Linked DNA regions of Homo sapiens. The protein of the gene in region 3 interacts with the protein of the main gene of each other region in a biochemical or structural test. Each region holds a gene or a part of one and is shown on either strand. Other genes may lie near its edges.

Region 1 (4,306 bases), on a different chromosome or scaffold from region 3:
AAACTATGCAAGATTATGAATAGTACAAATCTAGGTTGTAAATACTATTGTTCACAACACAAACTGGTGACTGTAAGTTCTTTCATATACATCCATTTTTCTATCATGAAAACTATTTTATAAAGGAGAAAACAGGCATATGGAAGTTAAGATACTTGTTCAGTGTCACACTAGCCAACTTAGACTGGAACTCAGATCTTTGGGGTCTGAATGCAGAATTTTTTCTGCTTGTATAGAGTTGTGGATGTGTGTGAGTTCTTAAGTTAAAATTGGACTGATAACATCTTTATCTTCTACATACAAAGATATAGTTGGGTTTTTTTCATCCTGTTCATTGTAGATGGCTTTTAAGAACATTTGGGCAGTTCAAATTTGTTGCTCTCATTAAAATTTGTGTAATTTGTTATGATTTCTTTATTGATGGCATTTTATCATGGTTGGAATAAATGACGAGGGCTTGATTTTTCTTGAGTTTGACCTAGAAAAAAAATTAATTACTTAAAACCTAGTAAAAAATACATATTCTTTGTGTTGTGTTTATACTTAGAACATTTTAGAACTTGGAAAAGCACCCATAACTGCACTGACCTCTTAAAAATTAGGTTTTAAAATTCACTATTATTTTTGGAATGTTTTATTCATTCAGTACTAGTTGCCCTTACATGTCTAGTGTGGACCAGGGGAAATTCATTAGATGGACTGCTCATCAATACAATTACAAACATTTATAAAATTTATATTAAAATTATATAATATTAAAAGTATCCATTTGAAAACCTGTGTTCTCCAGTGTCGAATATTAAATGTTGAAATTTTCCTTTGGTACTTAGATATTCGGCTGCAATTAAGCGCTGACTGGGAAATTTAAAGGGACTCAGTTGTGTTTTTTCTTTTTTAATTTTTCATCTTAATATTCCCTAATAGGCCAGTACTGATGCAGGCACTGCAGGAGCCCTGACTCCACAGCATGTTCGAGCTCATTCCTCTCCAGCTTCTCTGCAGTTGGGAGCTGTTTCTCCTGGGACACTGACCCCCACTGGAGTAGTCTCTGGCCCAGCAGCTACACCCACAGCTCAGCATCTTCGACAGTCTTCTTTTGAGATACCTGATGATGTACCTCTGCCAGCAGGTTGGGAGATGGCAAAGACATCTTCTGGTCAGAGATACTTCTTAAAGTAAGTGAAAATAATGGTGGGAGACAGTTATCTAAGACAAATATGTATTGGAAAACACAGTAAAGTGGTGTCAAGATACAGAATATCATTTATTTTTATGTTTTATTTAATATTTATGTTAAGCTCTGTAGCTCTATCTTCCATATATATGTTTCAGTTTGGTATGACCTAAATACCTTTGTTAGTATGGGTAATATTTTGAAAGCTTTACTGAGTCTTGGTTCTGAGCCTCTTTATAATCTTTTCTTTTGTGGAAGTTTGGTTATTCTCATTTTGAGCTTGTGCCAAACCTTTTAATTAGCCTAGCACAAAACAGAAAGAATACCATGAAAATTTTCAAATTCTGGGAATTACAGGGCTAGCAGCGTCTTACAAAATACGTATGGTGCTACTTGTATCTTTTTAAATAAATATTTTATTGGTAGAGAACTACAAAATAAGTAGGGCTTTTGGGGGAGTCTAATTTTACAGTATTTTAAATTGTGAAATGACAAGCACTACAACTGAAGCTTGATGTGACTTACCAATATTTCCCCCCAAAAATGTAAAGGGAAATAAAAATTTTTAGGTTTCATATGCAGTCGCTCAGTGGCAAACTTCTTTCAAGCTAGTAGGTCTTCACAACAGAAACCCTCCTCTCTGGGAAAACAAAAACATGACCGTTGGGTTGTTTATTTATTTTTATTTTTTCAGTCCTTTTGTGTTTAATAAAATGGCAGAATTACACTAGGCTGAAAAGACATAAATAGAATTTTCTCTCCTCTGATTTTGAAATTACAGATAAGACCTCAATTTTTTTCTGGCTTGTTTGGATCAAGTATATATTGAAATGTTGACTAAAACTAATTATGATAGACTGAAATTGATGTCTTTAAAAAAGCTCACTTAATAGTGTTTAATCAGGTTGAGATAATAAAGTGAAAAACAGTGTAAGTTTTGATTCGGATAGGTCTTGACAGTCTACTCCTAAGGCAAATGTAACATTTATTTATCATACCAGATAACACCATTAAGGATGTTTTGTTGTGTGAATCCTAGTATGTGTTTTATATTGATTGTCTTCCAGGGTGGGTTGCTACTTTGTAATGTAAGATAGAAAGTTTTGTGACAGACTTACAGAAGAGCAAAGGAAAAGGTTTGATCATGAAAAGTTCGTACAGTTTTTTTTTGCCCCCTTTCCTGCAACTTTTTCTTTTCTTTTCTTCTTTTTTTTTAAAAAAATTCATTTTCTGGTGTCCTGGTATCCATTTCAAAGGATCAGGTTTCAACCAGAACAGTAAAGGGCCTGAGACTGGAAAGTACACACAAGTCTGGCAAACTCATCTGCATGAGCAAGATCATTTGTTCTCAAGCAGACATCCAAAGTAAATGATTGAAAGAGCTGCTAGCTGTGAAGGATGTGTCTTGAAGGGGAAGGGAGTGGAAACAAACCAGGTTGTTAGGAAGAAAAAGAAAGGCTGCACTTTTTTGAACCTCTCCCTGCTGGGTCACATGCTGACCTGGGGAGATTGTTAAACAGCTTAATAGCCTGCTTTCCTTCTTTCTTTGGTTGATGCTGTGGCTAAAAGTATAAGGTTAAAGAGCAACATTTATGCTCTTCTTCTTAGTTCTTTGTATCTTGTAATAATTGCTTGTAGGTGATACCTGCCTACGATTTCATTATTTTGAATGAATGATCTTTTTTTGAGCTGAAATCAGTATTCTAGATACAGTTGGCCTTCCGTATCTGTGGGTTCAGCATTCATGGATTCAACCAACCTCTGATTGAAAATATTTGGAAACAAATTACATCTGTATTGACTAATGTACAAACTTTTTTCCTTGTCATTATTTCCTAAATAATGTAACAACTATTTAGCCTTTACGTTGTATTAAGTATTATAAGTAATCTAGAGGTGATATAAAGTATATGGGAGAATATGTATAGGTTATATGCAAATATTATGCCACCTTATATGAAAGACCAGAGCCTCTGTGGATTTTAGTACATGTAGGAGGTCCTGGAACCAATCCTTGACCACAGATGCTAAGGAATGACTATTCATTTTTCAAAGTTTCCAGTGATTCTTCCTTTGTGAAGAAATGTTTCTCTTAAAGGTATTGATATATGTAGATGGATTAATGAAGGGTATATACCTTCCAACCCCAGTCACCTCAATTCACCCCTGTCAACTATGGGCCTGTAAGGAAGATAAACCAGGCTAAAATAAATAAATCTCAAATTATGTCATAGGAGAAAAGGTTGCAAGGGTAGAGAGATATTTACCCGGAAAAGAAAAAACTGGGAGGAGGAGAGATAAGACATGATTGTTGTTTCAGTGTTTCTGGGGAACTTTTATGTGGGAGTAGGATTAGTCTTACTATATAAGAAATGTGAGGAATTTTGATTCCATGGAAGAATTTTCTTATATAAAACTTTTAAGAACTAGAAGAGTTTTCCTGGACAGGTAAATCTTGCTCAATAAATGTAGGTAAAATCATGGTTACTTGGTATCTGTCAGGGATTCTATGGAGGCCCCTAAACATTGGATGTGGGAGAAGAATGCTGTGGGCTTATAAAATTTTGTATTTTAAAGAGTATCTGCTTTATGAACATTATGCAATTTGGAGAAAAGTTATGAAATAAGATTATTTCACCTTCTCCAGTTAGCTACTTCCATGATGTTATGGACCGTATAGTTGTTACAACTTCTTTTTGTGTACTGAACAGACAAATGAGATTAATATCCTAACCATTAGTCAAAGATGATGATAAACTAAGCTTTTGGTGCCAAGTTTCTGTTGTCAAAGTTCATTTTTATCCTAGTTTTGATGTTTTAAAATAGGGCTGTCTTTGTAATCAATATTTATATACTTTCCTCTTGTATCTAAAGAGGAGTGTTGTTGTCATCAGATGTAGAATGAAGATTTAAATTAGTTGCCTTACACTTGTTTCCGCAATGAAACATTTTATTTTAATGCATCTTTTTAGATATTTGTTGGAACTGACTTTTAAGTTACAAAGTCTATAACTTATTGAGATTTATATTTGGCATGAAGAACCTGACTATAAATGGTCCAGACAGGCAAGACGATGTAATTTGAGAAAAAACTTAGAAATGTTAAGAAACAACCCAGTTGTTGGCCTTGTG
Region 2 (4,306 bases), on a different chromosome or scaffold from region 3:
CTGCTATACTGAGAAAGGAGGTTTAGGCTGGGGGCAGTGGCCCATGTGTGTAACCCCAGCACTTGGGGAGAATCGCTTGAGCCCAGGAGTTCCGACCTCATCTCTATAAAAAAATCAAAAAATTAGCTGAATGTGGTGGTGCACGCCTGCAGTTCCAGCTACTCAGGAGGCTGAGGAGGGTGTATCCCTTGAGCCCAGGAGGTTGAGGCTACAGTAAGCTATCATTGCAACATTGCCCTCCAGCCTGGGTGACAGAGTGAGACCTTGTCTCAAAAAAAGAGAGGGGTGGAATTTAAACTAGGGATCCAAAGTCTAATTTCAGGGTGGGAGGGGTTTGAGGGATGAGAAATTACTTAATGGGTACAATGTATGTTATTCAGGTGCTGGTTACACTAAAAGCCCAGACTTCAATGCTGGATAATACATTCATGTAATAAAACTGCACTTGTAACCTTTAAATGTATAAAGTCTAATTTCAGTTTCTTGTATACATATAAATTTATATCTTTCTTACCTGCTACTCCAGAAAAATTATTATATTTGTTCTTGGGGAATAAGTTTATAGTTTGTTACTTTCTACAGATTACAAGAATATTCCTCATTTCTAATCTAATTAAATTTTAATATCCTATAGTAAAAGAGTAAGTCATGCTGAAAAAAAAGGCATCAATAGGGACAAGCATTATAAGTAAAAGGCTACAAAAAAAGTTAAATTCTTGAAAAGTGTTCTAATGCATGCTACACTGTATTTCATTTAACTAGCCCCCCCCACTGATGAACATTTCAGTTGTCTCCAATATTTTGCCATCTCAACAATAATGCAATAAATATCCTACTAAATGTCAAAATTTTTTTAAAGTTGTTAGGTGGGCACAGTGGCTCACGTCTGTAATCTCCAGCACTTTGGAGGCCGAGGCGGGTGGATCACCTGAGCTCAGGAGTTTGAGACCAGCCTGGGCAACATTTTGAGACCAGCCTGGGCAACATGGCAAAACCCCATCTCTACATACACACACACACACACACACACACACACACACACACACACACACACACACACAATTAGCCTGACATGGTGGTGTGTGCCTGCAGTCCCAGCACACACACACACACACACACACACACATACACACACACACACACACACACAATTAGCCTGACATGGTGGCGTGTGCCTGCAGTCCCAGCCACTCGGGAGGCTGAGGTGGGAGAATGCTTGAGCCTGGGAGGCAGAGGTTGCAGTGAGCTGAGGTCGTGAGCCTGGGTGACAGAGTAAGACCCCATCTCAAAAAAAAAAGTTGTTAAAGCAGCTTTTTATCCTTTTTTTCCAAGCAGCTTTTTAATGGCAGTGCATAGATATGTCTTTATAAATCACTATTTTCTCATGGAGTTTCATTGGTCAGCATCTCTGCTTTGATGACAAGGCAATAAACAAAAACTACCTCCAAAAAAGACTTTCCACAAACTACTTTTACCCAAGTTCAAAGCCTCTCTCATCACTTGTCTCATCTCCCTGAATCTACTCCTGCCTCCTACAATCCTTCCTTCACAGCAGCCAGAGAAATATTTTTAAATAGATCAGCTCATGCCACTCCCCCGATCACATCCTTCTATGATTTTGCATTGCTCTAAAAATACAATCTACACTCCTCTCCATGGTCCACATGACACTAAAGACATTAAGAATCCCTATGTGGTCTGCTCCCACCTACCTCCCACCTTCCCAGCCTCACAGCTCCCACACTTGCTCTCTCCTAGCCTTCAATCACTCCGAGATCTTCTCCCACTTCAGCACTTTTGCATGTGCTGTTTCCTAAAACCTGGAATACTCAATGCCTAGCACGGTACCTGGCACAGAGTTATCCCACCATAAATAATTCTTCAATGAATGGATAGATGTTTCATTAGAGTAGGCCAGTGGGATGATAAAAACTTGAACCATTATCTTTAAAATAGACATTGTAAAGGCCAGGTACAGTGGTTCACATCTGTAATCCTAGTACTTTGGAAGGCCGAGGCAGGCAGACAGCTTGAGCCCAGGAATTTGAGACCAGCCTGGGCAACAGAGCAAGACCCTAACTCTACAAAAAAATAGAAAAATTGGACAAGTTTGATGCCACGTGCCTGTAGTCAGTCCCAGCTACTCAGGAGGCTGAGATGGGAGGATCACTTGAGCCCAGGAGGTCGAGGCTGCAGTGAGCCAAGATTATGCCACTGCAGTCTCCAGCCTGGGCAACAGGGTAAGACCCTGTCTCAAAAAAAAAAAAAAAAAAAAAAGACATTGTATGTGTGTATATACATGTATGTGTAGACAGATATACATATTACAGAAACACATACAATGTGTATTTGTGTTTATATGAGTATACAAATATACATATATACACATACATTCTAAACAGTATATTCTATACCAATACATTTCAAATTTCAGGCTTGTGTGGTAGCTCATGCCTATAATCCCAGCACTTTGGAAGGCCAAGGTGGGCAGATCACTTGAGGCCAGGAGTTCAAGACCGGCCTGGCCAACATGGTGAAACCCCATCCCTACTAAAAATATAAAAATTAGCCAGACATGGTGGCACGCACCTGTAATCCCAGCTACTCAGGAGACTGAGGCACAAGAATTGTTTGAACCCAAGAGGTGGAGGTTGCAGTGAGCCAATATTGTATCACTGCACTCCAGCCTGGGTGACTGAGTAAGACTCTATTTCAAAAAAAAAAAATTTCAAATTTCATTTTGGTACTAGCTTTATCAAATTCATTTGATGCTGGCATAAAAGTCTGTCTCCCTCTCTAAATTCAGTGCTCCTCGCGAACATGGATAGTATTTTTCCTATTTCAGTGTTGTCAAAGAGCGTCACATATACACATTTGCTCAAGGCACAAAGTCCTCCAAAATTCATAGTAATGAACTGGGCTGCATTTTAGGGCATCTGAATCCATTTCAGGGTCTCCAATCCTTGGTTGGGGTCCACAACTCCCAGAGACCTTGCCAACATCACTTTTTGCCTCTTTCTTCCTTAAAAACATTGGCGTTGGATGGCAAGTACTGTCTGTGTTTCCCAGAGGGAAGGGGAATAAGCTGAGTTTCTCTATTGTTCTGTGGCTGCCTAACAAAGTACACCACGGCCTGCTAGGACAATTACAAACATGAGTTGGCTCTGCTTTTCCAGCATCATGTGCCACTCATAACAGTCTCCACATTGACCATGGACACGAGGGGTAAGTCATCTTAGCAGTGGCCTCTGCACTTGAGCAACTCTAACCAAAAACTTGGCCTTACATCAGGACCTAACGTTAATAAAGACATCCCAGTTTCCACTGCAAAGACACAGAACTGTTATTTTTCAGCAAGGCAAGTTTATTTACTCCCGCAGGAGATAAACAAACGTGGCCACCAGGGAGAGCCCAGGACAAAATGTACTTGACCTGCAAGAGATAAACCAAAAGCCTCCAGTCTCAGAACAAGCTCAATTTTCTGCCCCTCTCAGCTCATCGTCGCGTATGGATTTCAGAGCAACAAAAACAGATGTAAAGGAGGTACCACATGCTGAAGGAAGAGTTGGAAAATACAGGCAGCTTTGTTGGTTTCACAAAGGCAGAAAAGGGCAGAGAAGCAACCTCAAAATCTAAATCCAGTACTATCACTGCTACATGATCAAGGGAGGAGTCACTTAATTGCTGAATGCCTTAGTTTTCCTACCTATGATGCTGAGAGATATCAGTACATTGAATATACTTACATTTTAATTACTGGATGCATATAAAAGCCGAACCCAAGAGGAGTTATTTTGATAATTAAGCAAAACAAAATTCAGACTACTAATTGTCATTCAGGTGTCAGCTCACACGATCACCTTCTCTAAACCACCTATCAAAACTAACTGCATTCTCCCATCCTCACATTTCTGTGGGATTTTTTCCCTCCTAGAATTTATTACTACCTGAAATTGCCCTATTTAGTCATGTGTTTGTCTGCTCTCTCTCAGCCATGAAAATAGCAATATTTTCCTATCTTACTGCTTTATCCTGCCTGGCTCATTAACTTCCTGTTGAATGAATTAATACTAGGTTAAAGTAATTTGAAGGCGGGACGCAATAGCTCATGCCTGTAATCCCAGCACTTTGGGAGGCCGAGGCAGGAAGATCGCTTGAGCCCGGGAGTTTGAGACCAGCCTGGCCAACATGGCAAAACCCTGTCTCTATAAAAAAATACAAAAATTAGCCGGGTGTGGTGGTGCACACCTGTAGCCCCAGTAACCGGAAAGCTGAGGAGGGGGGATGGATTGAGCCTAGGAAAACA
Region 3 (3,599 bases):
AGCTTTTATGTAAAGATTAAATCGAAGTTCTACCAAGTGTATGTGGACATATGTGAGTTTCAAGATTCATCACAGGGCTAACTCGTCTCAAATTCCTATAGGGAAGGACACAGAGAATTGATCTTCATGGGAAACCATAATTTTAATAGCTTAAATATTCTCTATGCGGTAGTTTGATAGTTCACTTAAACAGTGTCCAAATTGCTAGAATCTCTTATGAAAAAATCAGGCATTCGAGGGCAAAGATGAAGTCAGTGTTTCACAAAGTGGGGTGTAGGATCTCAGAGATCCACTATGGCTTAAGAAAGGAACAGGACAGCATCGGGGGACTACTTTGAACCAGGGTGGTAGAAAGGGAAGAGAGCAGTGCCAGTTGTGTCAATGGGCAAAAAAGGGAAGGATTCTATTTTCCTCTAAAGGTCAGAGAGAAATACATTTTTCTTTGATTCCTAACAAGGTAATCACTTACTTGCAAAGCTGACTGTCAAAGAGTATTTTCCAGAGGAAGCATGTGAATACCCCCCGTGAAATTGGGGCTTAGAGTCATTTTAGCTTGTGACTATAGAAGCATTTACTTCTGCCCAAAATGTCACCTGGCCAGGAATTAGGTGAGGCAGGGGCCTGCAAAAGTGACAGATCCTACATTTTTGGACCTCTACAAAATCAGTGAGACTTGAACCGAGTATCTGAAATTTCTATTATTTTAGAGAGACTTTTAATGAAAAGAAAAAAGCAGCTCACACTGCTAAAAGATATTTGCCCACACAAACACAAGGGCCCCTGGCCCGACACAATGCCCACAACAGCTTCTTGTTTCCAACTGCAGAGAGAACTCAGATCTCTGGGATCAGAAAAATTTTATTAATTCTACCCAGAAGTATAAAAACTGGCCCCATTGTAATATCAGTAATAATGAGGTCTCCACTGATAATGATCTTTTAAAATTATGCCTGATCTCATCTGTATAATATTTGTTCTTAAGCAAATAGCAACCAGGCGATACCAATCTGCATTTATATGTTTACATGGGGCAAGGCTGTCCTTCAAACTGATACACACCGAAGTCCATGTACACAAACAGAGGCACAGTAAGATCCTCTGCCCACAGTATATACAGTAGAAGTTAATTTATCTGTTTCTTTTTTTTTTTTTAACAACTAGAAGCTGATGTTGTAGGATCAGCTCTAGGATCCTCTGCCCACAGTATACAGTAGAAGTTAATTTATCTGGTTTTTTTAACAACTAGAAGCTGATGCACATGGATTTCTCATTTGCCCTATAACAATCATCATTCTAATAACTAAAGTCCAAAAGAATGGCAATGCAATAGTTTGAAACGCTTGGTTTAGCATTTATTTATCAGAAAAATTGTGATTCTTTGTTGTCATTTTTGGAGGCAAGAGGGCATAGTGAGAAAAGAAAGGACATATCACCAATTAACTGTATTTTGTTTGTTTGCTAGCTAAATGACACCACTCCTTTTTTTTTTTGTCTCTGCATAAGGTAATAGAACATTTACATTTTCTTTACTTCATCTTGAAGACCCTTACTTAGTCATATGTAACATGTTTGCCTATTAAATTCTGCAAGGTGGTGTTTATTTAAAAAAATAAATAAATACAATTTTCTTTACATTTAAAAAGTGATAAAGGAATAAGAGAATGAGAAAAAATTGTTCATTGTAATGCTTTAAAGCAAGTTTTCCCAAGTGGAACCATATATGCCTACTTTCAGCTAAACCCAACAAACAACAATTTTAAATGGCAAACTTATCTTTTTACTATGCAAAATCCATCCTACATTTTTATATCCTGCATTTAACTTTGTTACATTATACTTGTGGTTAGTTTTCTAGTTTGATTTATTTAATAATATTAAAATCATTTAACATCTGATAACCTAACTAAATCTACATCTTATAGCATTATCGTGGTTCTGTCCAGTTATATACATGCTTTCATGATCACCTTTTCTATTACCTTATGAACTACATATACTAGTTAAATTATCAACAATTACAGATGGATGAATAATTCCAGTTTTGAAATAAAGGTTAGAGAGCTCTAGAAAAACTTGTATTTACATCCTTCCCTGTCAGGCTTAAACAATTTTAATTTTCTTTTCATTTTTGATACTTCAAGAAGCACATTAATAGTCCTTCCAACTTCATCTAGTAGCAGAGCCTCACACAGTCCTTTTCTTGATTTTTCCTTAGCATTGTAAGTATGCACAATCTTCATGCCATGTCTTTCCTTTAGAAGGTATTAGCTCACACACTATAACACTTAAACACTATTCCTTCTCTTAAATTAGATATTCAGTCCTTCTCCCTAATCTACAAAAAAGAATCACTTGATTTTAGTTTGTGTGTTTTAATAGAAATTTGAGTTTTGCGTTGTTTTTCATGCTATTTTAAGAATGTTACTGGAGAAAGGATTCTCATCCTAAGCTGTGCTACTAATACTATGCAGAAAACCAGGAGCTGCTTGGTAGTCTAACACCTTTTGTGGTGCAGATGCTTTGTGGTTCTGGATCTATCCTAGATCAGAGGCCATCTTTCCTCACCTGTTTACCACTTTCTTTAGGCAATCATTTAACTGCAAAATTTTTCCATACCTGCCCAAAATAGGTATAATCTACAAAGTTGGGTGATTTAAAAAATATACTCCGTGTAATTTTAATACTAATTTGTCTCAGATTTACATAATTGATTCTGCAAATTTCAATTGCTACAATTGGCCTCTGGAATCTGATATCCCCCCAAGCACTTTGAAGACTTTAACTGACATTTTAAAATTCTACCCTACTGGACTAAATAAGTTATTCTCTGGAAGGAATGAAACTTTTTTTCTCCCTCTTATACATGCTGAAATATGTTTTCCCAGGGGGGACAAAAATAAAACAAAAAACACTCAAACAACTGAAGTCAATTATATACTACAGAAATCATTCAAAAGAATTATAAAGTGGTGCTATTATAAAGCATTTGGGTCATTTTGGATTATTCCTACATGCATCTCTAGGTATTACCCAACATGTAGAAGTCTTGTGTTCTTAGGAGGAAAGAGACATTCACTAAATACATTTCTGTTACCTTAACAGTTAAAAGTTTGTTTTAACTATTCATTTTTTCCTTCTCCAAAATGAGTGATTCTGCTTTCTATAGCCCAGTAGAAACCATATGCATATTGTAAATCAGAAAAAAAAAATCAAGGTATAGTATCCAAAAAGAGGGCTGTGATGACTCGATGCAGATTTATTTAGAAAGGGAGGCTTATATTCAATTTTTCATAAGTACTGATATGAGATCCCTTTTCCTAGAGACTTCTCTGAATGGATAGGAGAGCCCTGAGCTATTAGATTGTGGCCCCTGAATCACTCTGTGTCTTTACCCCTGAAAAGTTTGAGGGTGAACTTCACTAGAAGGAATCTCACAAACCCTTCTCCTGCTCTACCATACTTTTTCAGCTCGCCTCACTTCTTATAGCTTAGAAAAAAACCAACTCCAATGTCTCCAATATTCTTGGCCAAGGACCACCATCTGCTTTTGGTTTAATGGTGAAGTTAGACTCTAGATAGGCTAATTAGTCAGTGATGCA
Region 4 (4,306 bases), on a different chromosome or scaffold from region 3:
TCCTTTTAGAGTTTTCTTGCTGGGGTGTTTGGCTCCAGCACTATAGCCCTTACCACAATCATTCCACCTGGTTCTTCAATAGGACTCTGAGGTATCAAAAAAGTCACTAGGGCAGCCCAGAGATTGGTACGATTTACCTTTACACCTCAAAGTTTTTTAGATGTGAGCAGCGCTGGATTATGGCAATTTACCTTATAATAACTCACCATAGTTGGCTGTTATAAGAATAAATATTGTTCTTCTAAGATTTTTAATTAGTTGCTTCAGTTATTACATTTTTTTCTATTTTTTTTTTAAATAGAGATGAGGTTTTGCTATGTTGCCCAGGCTGGTCTCCTGGACTCAAGCAATCTCCCACTTCAGGCTACCAAAGTGCTGGGATTTACAGGCATGAGCCACCTCTCCCAGTCTCAGTTATTATTTTAATAAATGAGACTGAACGTCCTCTTATAAGGCTCACTCCCTTGTTCCTACTACATTTGCTCTGTTTAAGTATCTCTTTAAATTCTTCAGTTAAGATCATCCCTTTTATCAGAAACCTAGACACCACAAAGTAGCTTTCTCACCTTTAATTCTCCATAGGGATCACTATTATACTATAATATTTGCATACGTATGTGTATATATGTATTTGCTTTTTTAAAAAAGTAAAAATGCTCTTCTCACTCTTTGTCGATATAGGCACCCAGGTACGTAGTTAGAAATTAAATAAAGGCCACAATAATTTCCCAAGGAAGATCATTAAAAAGAAAAATCCTTTCTTCCTCTAATATCACATAGCTGGCCTTTATGGCATGCCAGCTAAGAAAAAAGGTATTGCCTATGGTGACAGGAAGACTCAATCTTTCTCTCTTTGGGTTGTAGCTGAATTTCTATCAAAAGTCCTAGTAAAATATATAACTCCTCATTTGTTCTAAGCCAAGTCTTTTCTTCAGTTTTCCTTCAAACAATACCTTTACTTTCCCATTAGAATATGAAGAATTGGAGACTGTGAACAGCAAGGTTTGGGGTGGGTATCAGTCACTTCAAATCTGGCTATGCAGAGAGAGGGAAAGACATGGCAGAATAGCAGGGGTGGAGGGTGAGTGAAATGTATCTTCATTGGGAGTATTGAAAGAGAGCAAGTTTTTCAAAGTTGTTGCCGGTATCTCATGAAAGCCCAGGCTGCTACCATGGTGAGGGCAAACACTGGCACCAGCACCATAAATATGGGAATACCACTTGGGTCCCCTTCACCTCGATGTCCTATAGGTCCATTCTGCACCTGTAACTGGAAGGGAAAGAAAAATGTTAACTCTAGTGACTAATGTGTGTTTGCAACTGAAACGCCCAGGTTGATACATCACCTGGGTTTGTAGACTCTAGACCACCCAAAACTGTAACCCCCAGCAATACCTAGCAGAAGGAGTCCTCTCTTTGTCCTGAGCTGATGCATCAGTGTCACAGGATCTTTGGAAAGAAAATAGGTCTAATGGGGAGGCATTTAACCTTGCTGACCTAAAGGGACCCGTGAGGGCAAGTCAGGTAATTTCTGTTTCTGTACTGCCTCTACCTTGCTATTTGTGTATCGTATCAGGAAAATGAAGACATGAGATAAAACCTATGATCTTATAGGGAACTTGGATATTACTTGGTGAGGAAGAAGGGGGATCTTTCTGGAAATGTTTACTTAGATAATCAGTCATCAAAATGTAGTAAGAGCAGATGTGGGCAATGTCAACATAGGTGCAATACCAACATACGTCCAATGCCATTACTTGAAAAATGCTTTCCAGATCCCAGAAGGCACCCAACTCCCTCCAAAGATGGGGTTTTGCCCTTCATCTGCTCATTTCTAATACTAGAGAGAGATGAAGGTGAATCTATATGGAACAGATGTAAAAAAGCAAAAAGAAATTATATCCTAGTGCTTATAATTTTCTATTGGCTAAGTGTTTCCTTTTGAGGCTGGATGGTCTTCATTTTAGTGATGGTTTTCAGGGTAGCTCTTCTTAATATCAACTTTTAGTGGCTAACTTGCAATAATTATGGCATCATCGTATTTCAGTTAAACTGCCTCATTACAACTCATAAAACTGACACTTCAATCTGAAAGGCAAGACTGCATGAAATACCATTATACCCTCTATTCCACCTCTATGTTTTTCATTCATTTGCTGATGAGCTGTCCTGAAAGGACATGCTCAATAAGAAGGCATGGTTTTTAGGGCTAGGCCAATTGCCTGAACATAAGGGTCTTTTTTATTAGGAATTATTTATGGATGTTTCCTTAAAAGTGAACACTGGAAATAACTTCTCACATACCTTCCAAAAGAATTGTAATCATATTGAAGTGTGTCCCTATATTTACTTGTTTTTATCTACTGCACAAATGCTCCCATGCTTTAGAAAGAGAAGAGCCAAGGCAGAAGCAACTGATGACCAATATTATCTCTTATTAACCTGTTTTCTAATCCATTACACCCAGATTCTGCTTGCAACTGGTTGTTTTCTCAGGTATCTTTCACGTTCTGCCTTCTCTACTTTTTTAGGAACTCCTCTAAATGTTCTTAAGCTTCTAAATCCTTAGCCACTGAGTGAGGAAGAGTGCACCTATTTAAGAAGTAGCAAATTGATTTAATTTAAAGGCACATGGAACCTGTTTTGTGAATATGCTCAGAAATTCTCAATGCTATAGGAGGAATTATATCTACCCAGGCTTCCCTTTACATCATCATCCAAATTATAAAACACTTGGAAATAAGAAACAGATGCAGGGATAGGTGCTGCCTTGACTGAATTCTGAATTCCATTTCCTTTTTCCTGGAGTTCTCCTATGAACACTAAAGATTTGGTTAAGAGGGTCACCAAGTTGATAAATGAAGGGTTCATGGCAGTGACAGGGAAAAGCATATAGTGGGTACCAGAAAACCCACCATCTTTGTAGTGTTTTATCCAATGGTTTTATAAATAAGTTTTCAGCGGTAGACATATGGTTCCTTCCCTACCAAAAAGTAAAATTGGCTACGTTTTTTTACCATCTTTTTAATTAATTAATTTATTTATTTTCCATTGGTCCATGTCACTCTTAAAATTTTTTATTTATTTTTATTATTATTTTTTTAAGAGATGAGGTCTCTCTATGTTGCCCAGGCTGGTCTTGAACTCCCGGGCTCAAGCAATCATACCACCTTGGCCTCCCAAAGTGCTAAGAGTACAGATGTGAGTCACCACACCTGGCTTTTCTTTAATCATCTGTTTTAATTTGGTTGTCAAGCTTTATCTTTAAGGCATATTATCTTGAAGCAAGGACCTTGGTTATAAGCCATACTGTTGTGAATTTCTCTTTTTTTTCTCTTTTTTTCTTTTTTTTTTTTTTGAGACAGGGTCTCACTCTCTTGCCCAGGCTGGAGTATAGTGGTATGATCTTGGCTCACTGCAACCTCTACCTCCTGGGCTCAAGCAATCCTCCCACCTTAGCATCCCAAGTAGCTGAGACTACAGGTGTGCACCACCGTGCCTGAATTTTTTGTATTTTTAGTAGAGATGAGGTTTTGCTATGTTGGCCAGGCTGGTCTCGAACTCCTGGCCTGAAGTGATCCGCCCACCTTGGCCTCCCAAAGTGTTGGGATTACAGGTGTGAGCCACCGTGCCTGGCCTGAATGTCCTTCAATGATAAGCAGAAGTACCAATGGACCCCTCCCTTTGCCTGAGAAACTCTTCAGGGGAGTGAGGGTAAAACAAAAAGCAACACTGAAGATTACACACATTGGGCTTATTCAGAAGTACAGTGCAAAAGCCTGGTGCCAGGTTTCTGGCTCAAAGTGATACCTACCCTGTGCTGCACTCTCAGAGACACAGCATAGCCTGCATTACGAAAGAGGTCTACAGCATCCTGGTGCAGCAGGTTCTTTAGGTCTTGGCCATTTACCTGTCAAAACACCAAAGAGTAGTAAGAAAGGAAGAAGGCTATTAGAAGTCAACAATTTATTTTCAAATGGCCAAACTTTAAATAACAAACTCCTTCAGAGCAAATTGCAAGGACTAGGAGTATGGGCAAAGTTACTTAGAGCTCAGAACTTAGAACTTTTTTCATTTTCAAAACTATGTTTTCCTAGAACTGAAGTTCCACAGGCCATCTGAAGAGAACCTATGTAAAATAAAAAGTGGTCTCTCCTTCCTCTTAGCTTCTATGCCTGTCTCGTTTTGACACTTGGGAATCTGTTACCGTATTAGCATTTCTTCCATGAGTGTTAACCTGCTTCCTTAAAGATAGCATGGTCTTCCAGGTTACCACCCTAACCTTTATATTCCTAAGCCCTGGCAT
Region 5 (4,306 bases), on a different chromosome or scaffold from region 3:
GACCTGGGATGGGCCACAGTGCCCTGCTCTGTGCCTCATCCCCACCCGACCCTCCCTTTCCAGAACAAATGCGTCCCATACTGGCCCGAGGTGGGCATGCAGCGTGCTTATGGGCCCTACTCTGTGACCAACTGCGGGGAGCATGACACAACCGAATACAAACTCCGTACCTTACAGGTCTCCCCGCTGGACAATGTGAGTGGCCCCCACGCCCTGCCCCATTCCGGGAGTCCCTCCCTGGACTTGTTCTCCTCTCTGGTCGGGTAGGGTGAGATGGATGAGGTGTTCCGAGAGAGGAGGGGGCACTGACCCTATGTCCTCGGCTTAGGGAGACCTGATTCGGGAGATCTGGCATTACCAGTACCTGAGCTGGCCCGACCATGGGGTCCCCAGTGAGCCTGGGGGTGTCCTCAGCTTCCTGGACCAGATCAACCAGCGGCAGGAAAGTCTGCCTCACGCAGGGCCCATCATCGTGCACTGCAGGTGAGGATGATAATCCTGATGGTAGTAGTGACAGCTGAGAAGTAAATACTGCTAAGTGCCATGAGCTGTTATAAGCAATATAAACGTTAGCTCGCACATTGAGTGCCCTCCGCTCACCCCCGGCTTCTCCTGGGTCCCCTCATGGCTCCAGAACCCTGGGTGGATCGTGGCTGGAACCAGCCCCACTTTGGCCCTCTGCCTGTGGGTATCTTCCTCAGAGCCCTCTCCGGATGTACCATCTCGCCCAACCCTGCCAAATACAGAGGAGGAGCCCGGGACCCAGTTGCTGGCCAGGCCCAAGCTAGTCAGGGCAAGGCCGGGCAGGCACCCACAGTAGGCCTGTGTCCCGGCTGCTCCGCTTTCTCTCGAGGTCCCATTCTGTTGGTTTCTTCTCCCAGGAACATCTATGAGGCATGTGCTCCCCATTCCTCCTCTTTTTCCATCGGTAGCCGCAGGGCTTCGGCTTCTTCCTGACTCTGCCCTCTCTCCCAGCTTCCCCAGGCAGTGCCCCATCCTGGCCCCCAGGGCTGTGTGGGGATGGGTGATGCTTCTTTGGGGCTGCACATAACTCCTCTGTCTATCTACCCGCATGTTTGTGATCAGGAGACCTCTGGTAAGGTGCAGAGGTGGGGGCTGCAAGGAGGAGCAGGGGTTCCACAGGTGAGCCCACTGAGCTGGCCTGGCCTGGGTGGATGAGAGGCAGTGGGTGCAGGGCCCCTCCGCTTACCAGCTGTGTGGTCTTGGACAAATTACTTAACTTTTCTAACCCTCAGCTTCCTCATCTGTAAAATCAGGATCTCAGGGTTGTCGTGAGAACTCAATGAGACCCTATCGTTGTGGCTGGAATTCCGTCAGCCCTCAAAAACTGGGCGCTGTTACTAGTTTAGTAACTCACATCAGGCAGAGAATAGGGGAATGGGAACCTGCCTTGCCCCGGTCCCTTCCCACTCCCTCCGTGGACCCCAGGCCTGCGACGGCCTCTGGCTTCCTCCTCTTCCCCCAGCAGCTGTTTGTCCTGGGACAGGGCAAGTCGGCTGAATCTAGAGGTGCCCCCGATGGGCTGTCCGGGGACGCGGCTCTGTCCTGTGCTCTCTCAGGGACAGGCCCATCCCCGAGAGCTACCCTCCTGCTCACCCGCCACACACACATTCACACACTTCTTGAAAGCCCCATGGCCTTTATTTAGACGTTACAGGAAGGAAGTGGGTGTGGGGGGTTATTTTTGACAATCTGGGTTTGAAATTAGACAGCGCGACTCAGGGCATCAGCTTGCTGGGCTCAGCTGAGGGTGGGCCTGGGGTCTCCCTGAGGTCTGTTTGCCCAGGGCTGGGAAAGGAGAGAAACTTCCTACTGCACTGCTCCCCTGAGTCCCCTGACCCTGTGCCCCCGCACCCTGCTGTCTCAGGGCTATCCTTTCCCTGACGTCAGGGTTTGAAGGAAAAGGGAAGTGAAGCCATGCTGAGAGACGCTCCATAACTCCTTCAGGGAGAGGCGGGGAGGGCTCAGGGTACCTGGGAGCCGGCAGGACAGTGGTGGGATTTGGGGGTCCCAGGTCTTCCGGGGTGGGGGCAGCCACTCACTAGGAGTGAGGAGTCGGCGCGAGGAGTGGAGGAGGGAAGGATGGTGGCAGCTGGGGAGCCAGCGTCAGCACCGCAGAGCCCGAGGTGGAGCGTGTCCATGCAGAGCTGGGCAAACCTCCATCATCACTTGCCCGGTGACCCTGGGCACATTCCCTCCCATCACTGGAGGCTCAGGCTGCTCCTGTGGTGCCTGGGGCTGGAGCTGAGCGCTGGGTACCCCCCTTCCCGGGGAGGGCTTGACTGGCCTCTGATGGCACCCCCGTCTTTCCCCAGCGCCGGCATCGGCCGCACAGGCACCATCATTGTCATCGACATGCTCATGGAGAACATCTCCACCAAGGGTGAGGGGCACCTGGGGGTTTGGGGGTGGGGGGTGAGCAGCCCCTCGGTGTCCGCCTATGCCTGGACCTGAGGTTTGACTGCCCCCCACCCAGGCCTGGACTGTGACATTGACATCCAGAAGACCATCCAGATGGTGCGGGCGCAGCGCTCGGGCATGGTGCAGACGGAGGCGCAGTACAAGTTCATCTACGTGGCCATCGCCCAGTTCATTGAAACCACTAAGAAGAAGCTGGAGGTCCTGCAGGTGCGTGCAGAGCAGGGCCTGGGGGGGGGGGGGGCTGCAGTGCAGGATGGGTGCCACCTGGCCCTGCTGGGACCACCACCTTCCCACTGTCCCTCTGCCCACAGTCGCAGAAGGGCCAGGAGTCGGAGTACGGGAACATCACCTATCCCCCAGCCATGAAGAATGCCCATGCCAAGGCCTCCCGCACCTCGTCCAAGTGAGTGGCCCTGACTGCCACTGCCCGGCATCCACCCCTTTGTCCTGCCCAGCCCGATCCTCACTTTCTGGAGAGGACAAGTGTTGCAGCTGGGGGGACCTGGCTTCAAGTTCAGGCTTGGTTCTCACCCCTTCTGTTCATAAGCATTTCCTGAGTGCCCACACGTGTGGGCCTCTGCTAGGTACCAGCAGCGCACTCGTGTATGAGATGTAGCCTCTGTCCTCTAGGAGCTTGGAGTCTAGTGCAGGGACCGTGGCTGCGTCACCTGTGAGACGGGGTGGCCAGAGGGGACTGCCAGTGCCGGGTCCCCCTGTGCTGTCTCCTGACCTGCACCAACTGCCTGTACTTGCCCCCCTGCACCCGGCTGCAGACACAAGGAGGATGTGTATGAGAACCTGCACACTAAGAACAAGAGGGAGGAGAAAGTGAAGAAGCAGCGGTCAGCAGACAAGGAGAAGAGCAAGGGTTCCCTCAAGAGGAAGTGAGCGGTGCTGTCCTCAGGTGGCCATGGTACAGCTCTTCTGCCTGGGTGTCCTCCCTGCCCTGCCCTGTGTCCTTGGCTCCACTGCCTTCCCTGGGTGGATGGGGTGGCCGCAGCCTCATTCTGTGCTTCCCAGCTGCCCCAGACCCTCTTGTTCCACCTCCAGGTTCCAGCTACCCTCTCACTCCCTCACTCCCTTCTCTTGGCAGCCTCAGCCCTGACCCTGTGGAAGCATTTCGCGATGGACAGACTCACAACCTGAACCTAGGAGTGCCCCATTCTTTTGTAATTTAAATGGCTGCATCCCCCCCACCTCTCCCTGACCCTGTATATAGCCCAGCCAGGCCCCAGGCAGGGCCAACCCTTCTCCTCTTGTAAATAAAGCCCTGGGATCACTGTGTGTCGCCTCTGAGCCCTTTGCTTGCCCAGTGAGTGGGCGGCCAGAGGGCAGGGCAGGATGGGTAACTGTGTGTGCCTCCGTGCGTGCCTCGCGTGAAAGCTCCGCCTTCCGTCAGACGGACGTGGGTCGGGACTCCGCCTCGCACGTGGGAGGGTGACCGTGGGTGAAGCTCCCCAGTCTCCTTCTTTAAAATGGAGGGCGATCATAACAGGGTGGTTGTGAAAAGCACCGAGATGACGGCTGACGATAAGACGGGCACAGTGACTCATCACACGCTTGCCATGTGCCCAGGCACTAAAAGACTACACACGTTAGTTCAGTCTAGGCACTTCTGTCATTCTCATTTTACCGTGGCGGAAACTGAGGGACAGAAAAACTAAGTAACTTGGTCACTTGCCCAAGGTCACAGGGCTATGGAACAGTGAGGCTGGGATTCGAACCCAGGCTGTCTGACCCCAGAGCCCACACTCCTTACCCTGGAGTTGCAGCTGGGGCCACCCTCAGGGGGGCCCTGATCACACTCCCCTGATGCTGAGTTCCAGATCTGAACTAAGAAGAGTAGTTAACAGCCGGAAGCGCA
Region 6 (4,306 bases), on a different chromosome or scaffold from region 3:
TAAAGTGGATAAACATTATTTCCTCAAGGTAACTCTTTCTAACCAAAAGAGATCCTAATAATAAGGGGTTTCAAACAGGTAGGAAAGAAGACCTGGAGTCTCAGGATTTTAAGCAGCATTTTGTTCAAACTTCTTCTTCTTTTTTTCTTTTTCTTTCTTTCTTTCTTTCTTTCTTTTTTTTTTTTTTTTTTTTTGAGACAGAGTCTTGCTCTGTCGCCCAGGCTGCAGTGTAGTGGCATGATCTCAGCTCACTACAATCTCCACTTCCCAGGTTCAAGCAATCCTCCCACCTCAGCCTCCCAAGTAGCTGGGAGTACAGGTGCATGCAAACATGCCCGGCTAATTTGTGTATTTCTAGTAGAGATGAGGTTTCACCATGTTGGCCTGGCTGGTCTCGAACTCCTGACCTCAAGTGATATGCGTGCCTCAGCCTCCCTAAGTGCTGGGGTTACAGGCATGAGCCACTGTGCCTGGCTGAAACTTCTTTTAAATATGAGAAAATGAGGCCCACAGAGGTGAAGTGACCCACCCAAGATCACACAGCTTAGTGTCAGAGCCGTTACTTCAATGCACGTCTCCAAACTCCTAGACCTGTATTCTCCTATGGAAAAGCTACTTGAGGTAGATGTAACATTGTGGTACTGTGGACTACATCTAGTCTAGACAACAGATGATTGACAATACTAGTTTACTGGGTCAGTGATAAGATACCTTAGACAGGAGAAGACGGATGGTAAGAGTATACTGTGGGATTTATAAAGGAAGTAAAGAAAATCTTTCAACACAAATTTCTATTTGCACACAAAGCTGATGAGCTTGATACCCAAGAAGGCCCATGTGAGCAAACACATTGCAATAAATGCTCTTGGGGACTGTTTTGGGTTGAATTATGTCCACCAAAAAAGATATGCCCAAGTCTTAACCCTCAGAACCTGTGAGTGTGACCTTCTTTGGAAATAGGGTCTTTGCAAATGTCATCAAATAAAGATGAGATTATATTAGATGAGAGTGAGCCCTAATCCAATGACTGATGTTCTTATAAAAAAGAGGGAAATTTGGCCATGGACACACAGAGAGAATGCATGTGAAGACAGAGGCAGAGATTGGAGTGATGCATCTACAAGCCAAGGAGCACCAAGAATTGCAGGCAACTGCCAAAAGCTAGAAGAGACAAGGAAGAGCTCTAAGATTCCTCCCCTAGAGCTTTTAGAGACAGCGTGACTTGGCTGATATCTTGATTTCAGACGTCCAGCCTCAAGAACTGTGAGAGAATCGATTTCTATAGTAGTAAGCCACGCAGTTTGTGGGACTTGTTACAGAAGCCCTAGGAAACTAATGCGATCTGGGAAACAGTTGGCTGGGCTGGGCTGAAGTGAAGAGACTGAAATCATGCAAATGCATATCACAAGGCAAGTTCCATGGGCTGGTCCTATGATGAGGCTATCCTGCACAGTGTGGCCTCTCATCTACGCTACTCCATTCCCATACTTCAGAGGCTGCCTGTCTTGCTTGGAGGCAAGTGAGAGGTTGGGAAGTGGAGGAACATTGGAGTGAGACACACCTGGTTAGGAATCCTCAGTCTGCTACTTACTAGTTGTGAAGTATCCTGTGGATCACAGACACCTGGGCTCTCAGTGTCCTCACCTGGAGAACACGGCCTTCCTCAGGGGGTTGTGGTGAGGGCCACTGCAGTTACCTGCCAAAGCTCGTCAAGGTTGGTTTCTTTGCCTCTGCTTTATTAAGTCTTTGAGCCAAGTTGAGAATTGGAAAGGAAACTAACATTTTCAACACCTCCCGTGTGAGAAAGGAACCCTACATTCATTAAATACTGGTGCTGCGAGGGGGCTTTCAAGCCAATTCTCTCATTTTAAAGAGGAGAACACTGTCACGTTGTAGATTTTCCACATTCCCCACTATGTTGGGCACCTGGGAGACCTTTAAATGAATGTCTGCTGATGGATGAATGGACTTGGAAAGGCCTCTAAAGAAAGGAGACTCAGTCTTATGGGGAGAATGAAGTCACATTTGACACCATTTAATGGGCTTTGCCCACCTCACTACTTTGCCCAGACTGGGATCTCACTGTCCTATTTCTGGCTCAATATCTTTCAAAGAATGGTTTGCTAGGCCCCCTTCCCTGAGAGACCTTCAGGTGGTCCAAAGTCTGAGCTTCAATTAAAGTTACTCAAAACAGGTGGTCAGGATTCATAAAGTGTTTTCAGCTATATAATTTATTCTACATCATAAGACCAAATGAAGAACCATTTTTTAAAAAGAATATTTAACCCAAAGTCAACTCTAGCTTAGCGCAGATGAAAAATATAGTCCCTATCATAAAGAGAAAATATGCAAGAAAACAAAGTAAAGAGTAGCTATAACAATCCCACTTTTTACCCAAGAGTAATATGCCTTCCATTCCCACCCAAGCTACTGCCTTTTTCACTTACCCCACTTTATTGCTCTCCATAGCACTTAATGCCATCTGAAATAGTATATTTTTTCATTTATTCAATTGAACCTATCTCCGCTCACTAAAATATTTCACAATGATTCAGACCTGGTCTCTTTTGTTTACTGATGCTTAGAACTGATTCATTTTGTTCATGGATGCCCAGTGCCTAGAACAGTTCCTGCTGCATAATTGATTCATAATACATATTTGTTAAATAAATGGATGAATGGATTAGCAAATAAGTTGGGGCAGGGAGAGGAGCAGTCACATGATATGGATAAGAAGGTAGAATATGAAGTGGCTTTTTTCCTGTAAACTTTGCCCCTAAATCCACCAGCCCTGTGTCAACTAGCCATTAAGATCATCTTTCTCTCAGTTCTCTCCTATGAATCCATTATTACCAAGCAAGGTTTGATTTAAAATTTTTTATGTGCTTTTTCCTACAGATGGGAATACAGAGCTCACAACTTTGGTTCATTTGGTATGATATTTTTACTGTAAATTAATAGCTTAGCATTTCATTTTTCAAAATTGGTTCACATCTCAAAAGAATTCTGAGGAACAGAACAACAACCAGGATGGAAACCTGTGGTGAAGACAGATAAGAATGGCACACAGGAGATTTGGGCTCTAGATCTCACTCTGCTTTAACTCATCTGTGTGGCCTTTGAAAAACCTGGGGTTTGGTTTCACCATTAAGGAATTGACCTTGATAACTTCTGAGTCTTCCGTCTTTCAAAGTTAGGATTCTATAAAACTTAATAAGTAAGTTCTTTCACGTATTTTGACTTCATAAGAGATGTCATTAGCTTGTATCGGACATCACGGATATCGGCAATCTTGTGAGGTTCATTTGGGTCGTGGGGTCAGCACTTTTTCTGGAGTCAGTGATTATTGCCATGAAAAGACAGATGGTGCCCCCATTAAAAATCTAAAACGCCAGAGGAGGCACTCCCTAGGGAAACTGGAGATCACACAGCAACTCTTTTCACATTTAAAATTGTACAGGTGTGTGGGTATGGGGAGGTTGCAGGAGGTACAAGAGGAAAGGAAAGCTGAGGCAGAGGCTAGAGGATGTGTAGGTGATGGTAAGGCAAGTGCAGAGAGCCCAGGTTTGGAGACTCACTCGTTTTCCCATGAGGGCCTGGCACACACCTAATCTTGATAAATGAGAATATGCCCATGAACTTTGAGTAGAAACATGAAAATATTTCCATTATGTGCCATGTCACTGTGGGTGAGGGCGAGAGCTGCATGTCCCATACATTTATCTGCTTTAGAGGTTTTAGTTACCCATTTGCCAGGACTGCCCAAGCCTGCTCTCTCTGTAACCCTTCCAGTGTTTATTATTTGAACTTCCCTGAGATCCTAATTGTCTGTTTGTAATACTGAGATCCTAATTGTCTGTAATACAGTTCTTGGGCTAGCTCTCTATACCTTCAGATCAGACATCTCGCCTGAGTGCTAGTTTTATATGACTGTCTACCTACATATTAGCATTATTTACAAATAATTACATTAAATTTAATATGTCAAAAACAAACTTAAAATGAGTCCATTTCCTAATTTACTCTGCTTCAGTCATTGGCATCACTGATGTCATTCTGAGACTTCAATTTGAAAGTTTTTTTTTCACCCTTTACAACCCTCCATCAATAATCAATCACAACCCCAATAAACAACAATGGTAACAAAATAATCAATCTACCCACTGCTCCATAAATGTTCACTACTCTATTAGTTATATTATGATTTGAAATGATCTGCTTAATCTCCCAGGGTTGTTGAGGCTTCTCTCATTCTTCTGTCACAGAATGCCTTACCATTCACCTCCTTTCTCTCCTCTCCACCTTA
Region 7 (4,306 bases), on a different chromosome or scaffold from region 3:
CTGGGCACAGTGGCTCACGCCTGTAATCCCAGCACTTTGGGAGGCCAAGGCAGGTGGATCGCGAGAAGCCAGGAGTTCAAGACCAGCCTGACCAACATGGCGAAACTCTGTCTCTACTAAAAATACAAAAATTGGGCCAGGCGTGGTGGCTCACGCCTGTAATCCCAGCACTTTGGGAGGTTGAGGCGGGTGGATCATGAGGTCAGGAGATCGAGATCATCCTGGCTAACACGGTGAAACCCTGTCTCTACTAAAAATACAAAAAATTAGCCAGGCATGGTGGCAGGCGCCTGTAGTCCCAGCTACTCAGGAGGCTGAGGCAGGAGAATCACTTGAACCCAGGAGGCAAAGGTTGCAGTGAGCCGAGATCATGCCACTGCACTCTAGCCTAGGCAACAGAATGTGACTCTGTCCCAAAAAAAAAAAAAAAAAAAAAAAAAGGAAATACAAAAATTAGCCAGGCCCAGTGGCGTGCGCCTATAATACCAGCTACTCAGGAGGCTGAGGCACAAGAATCTCTTGAACCTGGGAGGCAGAGGTTGCAGTGAGCTGAGATCGTGCCATTGCACTCCAGCCTGGGAGACAGAGCGAGACCCGGTCTCAAAATTAATTAATTAATTAATTAATTAATTAGCTGGGCACAGTGGCACACACCTGCAGTCCCAGATAGGAGGCTGAGGTGGGAGGATCACTTGAGCCCAGGAGCTCGAGGCTGCTGCGAGACGTGATTGTTCCACTGCACTCCAGCCTGGGCAACAGAGCAACACCTTGTCTCAAAAAATTGATTCATCTTCATCCACCCAAGCAGCCCAAACCTGAAAAGCCAGGCTCCCAGGGAGGCACAGTTATTGCCACGTGTCTCAGAAAATCGAAGACGGAGATCACAGCAGGAGTTTCACAAGGTTTTGGGTTGTTTTCGGGTTATTTCTTAAGATAAGAAATAGCAAGTTTTAAGAGGCAATCCATAGGAAAATGTGACAGAAAAAGTGAAAAAAAAAGTTGCTATAAGTAATACGGCCTCCTCGGAAATGGACATTTTTGCAGCTTTCTGCCTAAAAATTGTTTTTTCTTTATTCCCAGAATTTGTTGACCCTTCGCAAGACCTACCTTGATACTCATTTCACTAGATAAAAAAAATCAGCGGGAGACTCTTATAATCATTGTTTCCTTGTTCATTTTCAGAACAAACAGGAAGGAGCTCTGAAAGGTAAGAGAATATCCCCAGGCCAAAATGACCCTCTGAAAATCAAAGCCCAAAGTCTCGGGGCTATGAAGACAAAGTAGAAGAAAGGGAAAAGAGAAAAGGGGAGGAAAGAAAGAAAAGAGAAAAGGACACAGGTCATGGTGCCAGGAATTTGGAAACTGGCCACCTCGGCAATTTTGAGATGCCGGTGGGCTGGGGAGAGGGTGTCCTGGGGGACTGGCCCGGCTGAACCACCAGGCCAGCTTCTCTGCCTGGTGGAGCTAACCCGACCACCGCCTGCCTCCTGCTCCACCCTCAGACACGTACGGCTTGGACTCGTGGGGGTTGGGGTTGGGCACAGGGTCCGTGAGCCGCAGCTCGAACTCGGCGCAGCGCAGGTGCGTCTCGCGGTAGTGCTGGATGAGGGCATAGATGCTGCTGAAGGTGAGGTTGTCAGTCAAGTAGTATTTCAGGGTCCCGCCCTCCATGGTGGAGCGGATCCGGCAGTGCTGGACCCGGCCTGACCGCCTGCGGGGAGAGGACGCCATCAGTGCTGGGAGAACGCAGGCCAGGCCATTGCGGCAGCCAGGGCCTCAGAGGCGGGGACATTACATGTGGCCACACAACCTTCCCTCTGCTCCTAGAACAGACACAGGAGGCTGGGCGCAGTGGCTCATGCCTGTAATCCCAGCACTTTGGGAGGCCGAGACGGGTGGATCACCTGAGATTAGGAGTTCCAGACCAGCCTGGCCAATACAGTGAAATCTCGTCTCTACTAAAAATACAAAAATTAGCTGGGCATGGTGGTGCATGCCTGTAATCCCAGCTACTTGGGAGGCTGAGGCAAGAGAATCACTTGTACCTGGGAGACGAAGGTTGCAGTGAGCCGAGATCACGCCACTGCACTCCAGCCTGGGCGACAGAGCGAGACTCCATCTCAACAACAACAACAACAAAACCAGATGCAGGGCCTTAGTATAGGCTAGACCCTCAGCCTGGATTCCAGAACATTCTACCTACTTCCCCCACCCCACCCCACCCCATCCCCCTTTTATATATATAACTGCTTCTCTAGAGCCAGGATGCCTGGATTCAAATCCCAGCTCTGCCACATATGAACCAAGTGTCCTGGAGCAGGTCACCCGTGCTGTCTGAGCCACACTGTATTACTACCCCAGCGGTCTGACAGGAATGATAACAGTATCCACCTCAAAGAGGCATCCTGAAGAGTAAACGAGACCACACACACAAGGTGTCTCGAATACTGCCCAGCACATGGTAAGCATCATTTAGGTGTCCAGGATTATTTGCGTGTTATTAGTATTCTAATTTTCAGCCAGGTGCAATGGCTTACAGCTGTAATCCTAGCACTTCAGGAGGCCGAAGCCAGAGGATTGCTTGAGCTGAGTTCAAAACCAGCCTGGGCAACGTAGTGAGACTCCAGCTCTACAAAAAATTTAAAAGTTATTCAGGTGTCGTGGCATGTGCCTGTAGTCCCAGCTACTTAAATGGCTGAGATAGGAGGGTTGCTTGAGCCCAGGAGTTTGAGGCTGCAGTGACTGAGACTGCTCCATTGTACTACAGCCTAGGCAACAGAGCAAGACCCTATCACAATTTTTTTTTAAGTGACAGAATTATAATTTCCCTCTTTCAGGTCTCATCTTCTTTCAGGAAGGTTTTCCTAACCATTCCCCACGTCAGGGCATCAGAGCCTTCCTCACAGACTTTCACAAATCCCCCCAACTCACATTAAACCCCCCCAATAAAGGGAGGGATGTCCCTTTATGTTGCCTTGTTTCATTGCACTCATCACAACTATACTTGCAAATCATTTGAGTGACTGCTTTTTCATTGCCCATCTCCTTCAAAAGACGCTAGTGTCCAGGAGGACAAAGACATTGTCTGTCTGGCATAAGTACTGTGTCTAGCACAGGGCACGCCCTCAAGAAGTATCTTTTAATGCACTGAGACATGGATAAGTGGGTGGATGAATGAATGCACAAGCTCATCACAGCCTATGACGGCTTCAAAAGGACAGCCCTAGAGTCCTCGTTTTATGGAGGAGACAGAGATGCTAGAAGGTTGGCTGAATCATCCAGAGCCACATGACCCACTCCAGGGCTGGGATCGGGGAAAGTGAGTGAGACCACATCATCTAAGAGTAGGGTCAGATCTTGTCTTTGTTTAAAATGTTCATATTTTGTTCATCACAGACTTTTTTGCATTACTTTTGATTTTTTAAAAGATTGCCCTGAAATCTCATTAATCTGGGTTACAGTGCCGAAGTGAGTCATACCCACCTCACCCTTGTCCCGGCCTAGAAGAGCTAGACAAATGAAGCCTGGGATTCAGGTCCCAGCCTGCCCAATTCCTGCCTGAGCTAGAACCACTCGCCACCCTGCCTCATCGGTTGGCATGGAGAAGAAGGTAGGCGTTCCCTGGGTCGGGGGCATTACCAGAAGGACAGGGTGTAGTCATTGGGGAAGGTCTCGCTCTCCCGAACCAGGAAGGTGCCATCCTTGCCCCCCGTCTCCATGCAGTATTCCTGCAGCAACTTCTCGGCACTCGTCCTCTTCTCCACCTTCTTGTGGAACCATTTCTCCCCAAAATGTAGTTCTGTAGGGGGTATATCCTGGGCCGCAAAGAGAGGAGGGGTTTCTGAAAGCCTTGGACCAAACCCCAGCATCACTAGACAGGTCCTTCTGTCTCACCCTGACCCAGGGTACCAGATAACATAGAGAGGCCAGCCTCAGCTGGTCCCCACCCGAAGGGGTATGGGAAAACAGCACCTGCTACCCTCCTCTGCCTGCCTCCCACTCCTGAGAGCCCTCATTTATGGTGGCCTCCTGGCATCCTGAGACATGCAGTGAACGGTTCCCAGCAAAGCCCTCCATTCTGTTCTATGGGAAGTCTGAGAGCCATGAGGCCCTGGGGGCTGCAGAAATAAACAGCGGGAAAGATGACCACAGCTGGAGGAGAGGGCAACAGGAAAGCATGGGACCAAGCCAGAGCACCGGCCTCCATCTAAGGCCAATCAGGCACTTTAGAGAGCAGGAAAGCATCTTGAACCTCACTGGTTAAAGCACCTGGGGCAGCCAGCCAATCAGAGACAAGCCAGCCAGG

Evidence for each region.
Region 1: the proteins of ERBB4 (region 3) and YAP1 form a complex in vitro, tested with the Homo sapiens proteins (2 studies listed by BioGRID and IntAct, with this or other methods).
Region 2: the proteins of ERBB4 (region 3) and PTPN11 form a complex in vitro, tested with the Homo sapiens proteins (2 studies listed by BioGRID, with this or other methods).
Region 4: the proteins of ERBB4 (region 3) and SYNJ2BP interact in a test that uses a peptide from one of them, tested with the Homo sapiens proteins (one large-scale study listed by IntAct).
Region 5: the proteins of ERBB4 (region 3) and PTPN6 form a complex in vitro, tested with the Homo sapiens proteins (2 studies listed by BioGRID, with this or other methods).
Region 6: the proteins of ERBB4 (region 3) and SHC4 form a complex in vitro, tested with the Homo sapiens proteins (one large-scale study listed by BioGRID).
Region 7: the proteins of ERBB4 (region 3) and PLCG2 form a complex in vitro, tested with the Homo sapiens proteins (one large-scale study listed by BioGRID).

The regions. Positions count from the first base shown.
Region 1 is NC_000011.10:102,113,220-102,117,525, forward strand, and holds part of YAP1 (transcriptional coactivator YAP1), read left to right. Parts: intron 1-924; coding exon 925-1,175; intron 1,176-4,306. UniProt on the Homo sapiens protein: Transcriptional regulator with dual roles as a coactivator and corepressor. Critical downstream regulatory target in the Hippo signaling pathway, crucial for organ size control and tumor suppression by restricting proliferation and promoting apoptosis.
Region 2 is NC_000012.12:112,421,712-112,426,017, reverse strand, and holds part of PTPN11 (tyrosine-protein phosphatase non-receptor type 11), read right to left. Parts: intron 1-4,306. UniProt on the Homo sapiens protein: Acts downstream of various receptor and cytoplasmic protein tyrosine kinases to participate in the signal transduction from the cell surface to the nucleus. Positively regulates MAPK signal transduction pathway. Dephosphorylates GAB1, ARHGAP35 and EGFR.
Region 3 is NC_000002.12:211,377,749-211,381,347, forward strand, and holds part of ERBB4 (receptor tyrosine-protein kinase erbB-4 isoform JM-a/CYT-1 precursor), read right to left. Parts: 3' UTR 1-3,599. UniProt on the Homo sapiens protein: Tyrosine-protein kinase that plays an essential role as cell surface receptor for neuregulins and EGF family members and regulates development of the heart, the central nervous system and the mammary gland, gene transcription, cell proliferation, differentiation, migration and apoptosis.
Region 4 is NC_000014.9:70,371,862-70,376,167, forward strand, and holds part of SYNJ2BP (synaptojanin-2-binding protein), read right to left. Parts: intron 3,911-4,306; coding exon 3,815-3,910; intron 1,271-3,814; coding exon 1,130-1,270; 3' UTR 1-1,129. Other genes in the region: SYNJ2BP-COX16 protein, read right to left, coding at 1,172-1,270, 3,815-3,910. UniProt on the Homo sapiens protein: Regulates endocytosis of activin type 2 receptor kinases through the Ral/RALBP1-dependent pathway and may be involved in suppression of activin-induced signal transduction.
Region 5 is NC_000012.12:6,957,591-6,961,896, forward strand, and holds the end of PTPN6 (tyrosine-protein phosphatase non-receptor type 6), read left to right. Parts: intron 1-63; coding exon 64-195; intron 196-328; coding exon 329-483; intron 484-2,336; coding exon 2,337-2,404; intron 2,405-2,497; coding exon 2,498-2,649; intron 2,650-2,753; coding exon 2,754-2,845; intron 2,846-3,072; coding exon of another isoform or gene 3,073-3,215; coding exon 3,216-3,330; 3' UTR 3,331-3,355; intron 3,356-3,535; 3' UTR 3,536-3,726; downstream 3,727-4,306. UniProt on the Homo sapiens protein: Tyrosine phosphatase enzyme that plays important roles in controlling immune signaling pathways and fundamental physiological processes such as hematopoiesis.
Region 6 is NC_000015.10:48,956,802-48,961,107, forward strand, and holds part of SHC4 (SHC-transforming protein 4), read right to left. Parts: intron 1-4,306. UniProt on the Homo sapiens protein: Activates both Ras-dependent and Ras-independent migratory pathways in melanomas. Contributes to the early phases of agrin-induced tyrosine phosphorylation of CHRNB1.
Region 7 is NC_000016.10:81,907,925-81,912,230, reverse strand, and holds part of PLCG2 (1-phosphatidylinositol 4,5-bisphosphate phosphodiesterase gamma-2), read right to left. Parts: intron 3,816-4,306; coding exon 3,640-3,815; intron 1,712-3,639; coding exon 1,511-1,711; intron 1-1,510. UniProt on the Homo sapiens protein: The production of the second messenger molecules diacylglycerol (DAG) and inositol 1,4,5-trisphosphate (IP3) is mediated by activated phosphatidylinositol-specific phospholipase C enzymes. It is a crucial enzyme in transmembrane signaling.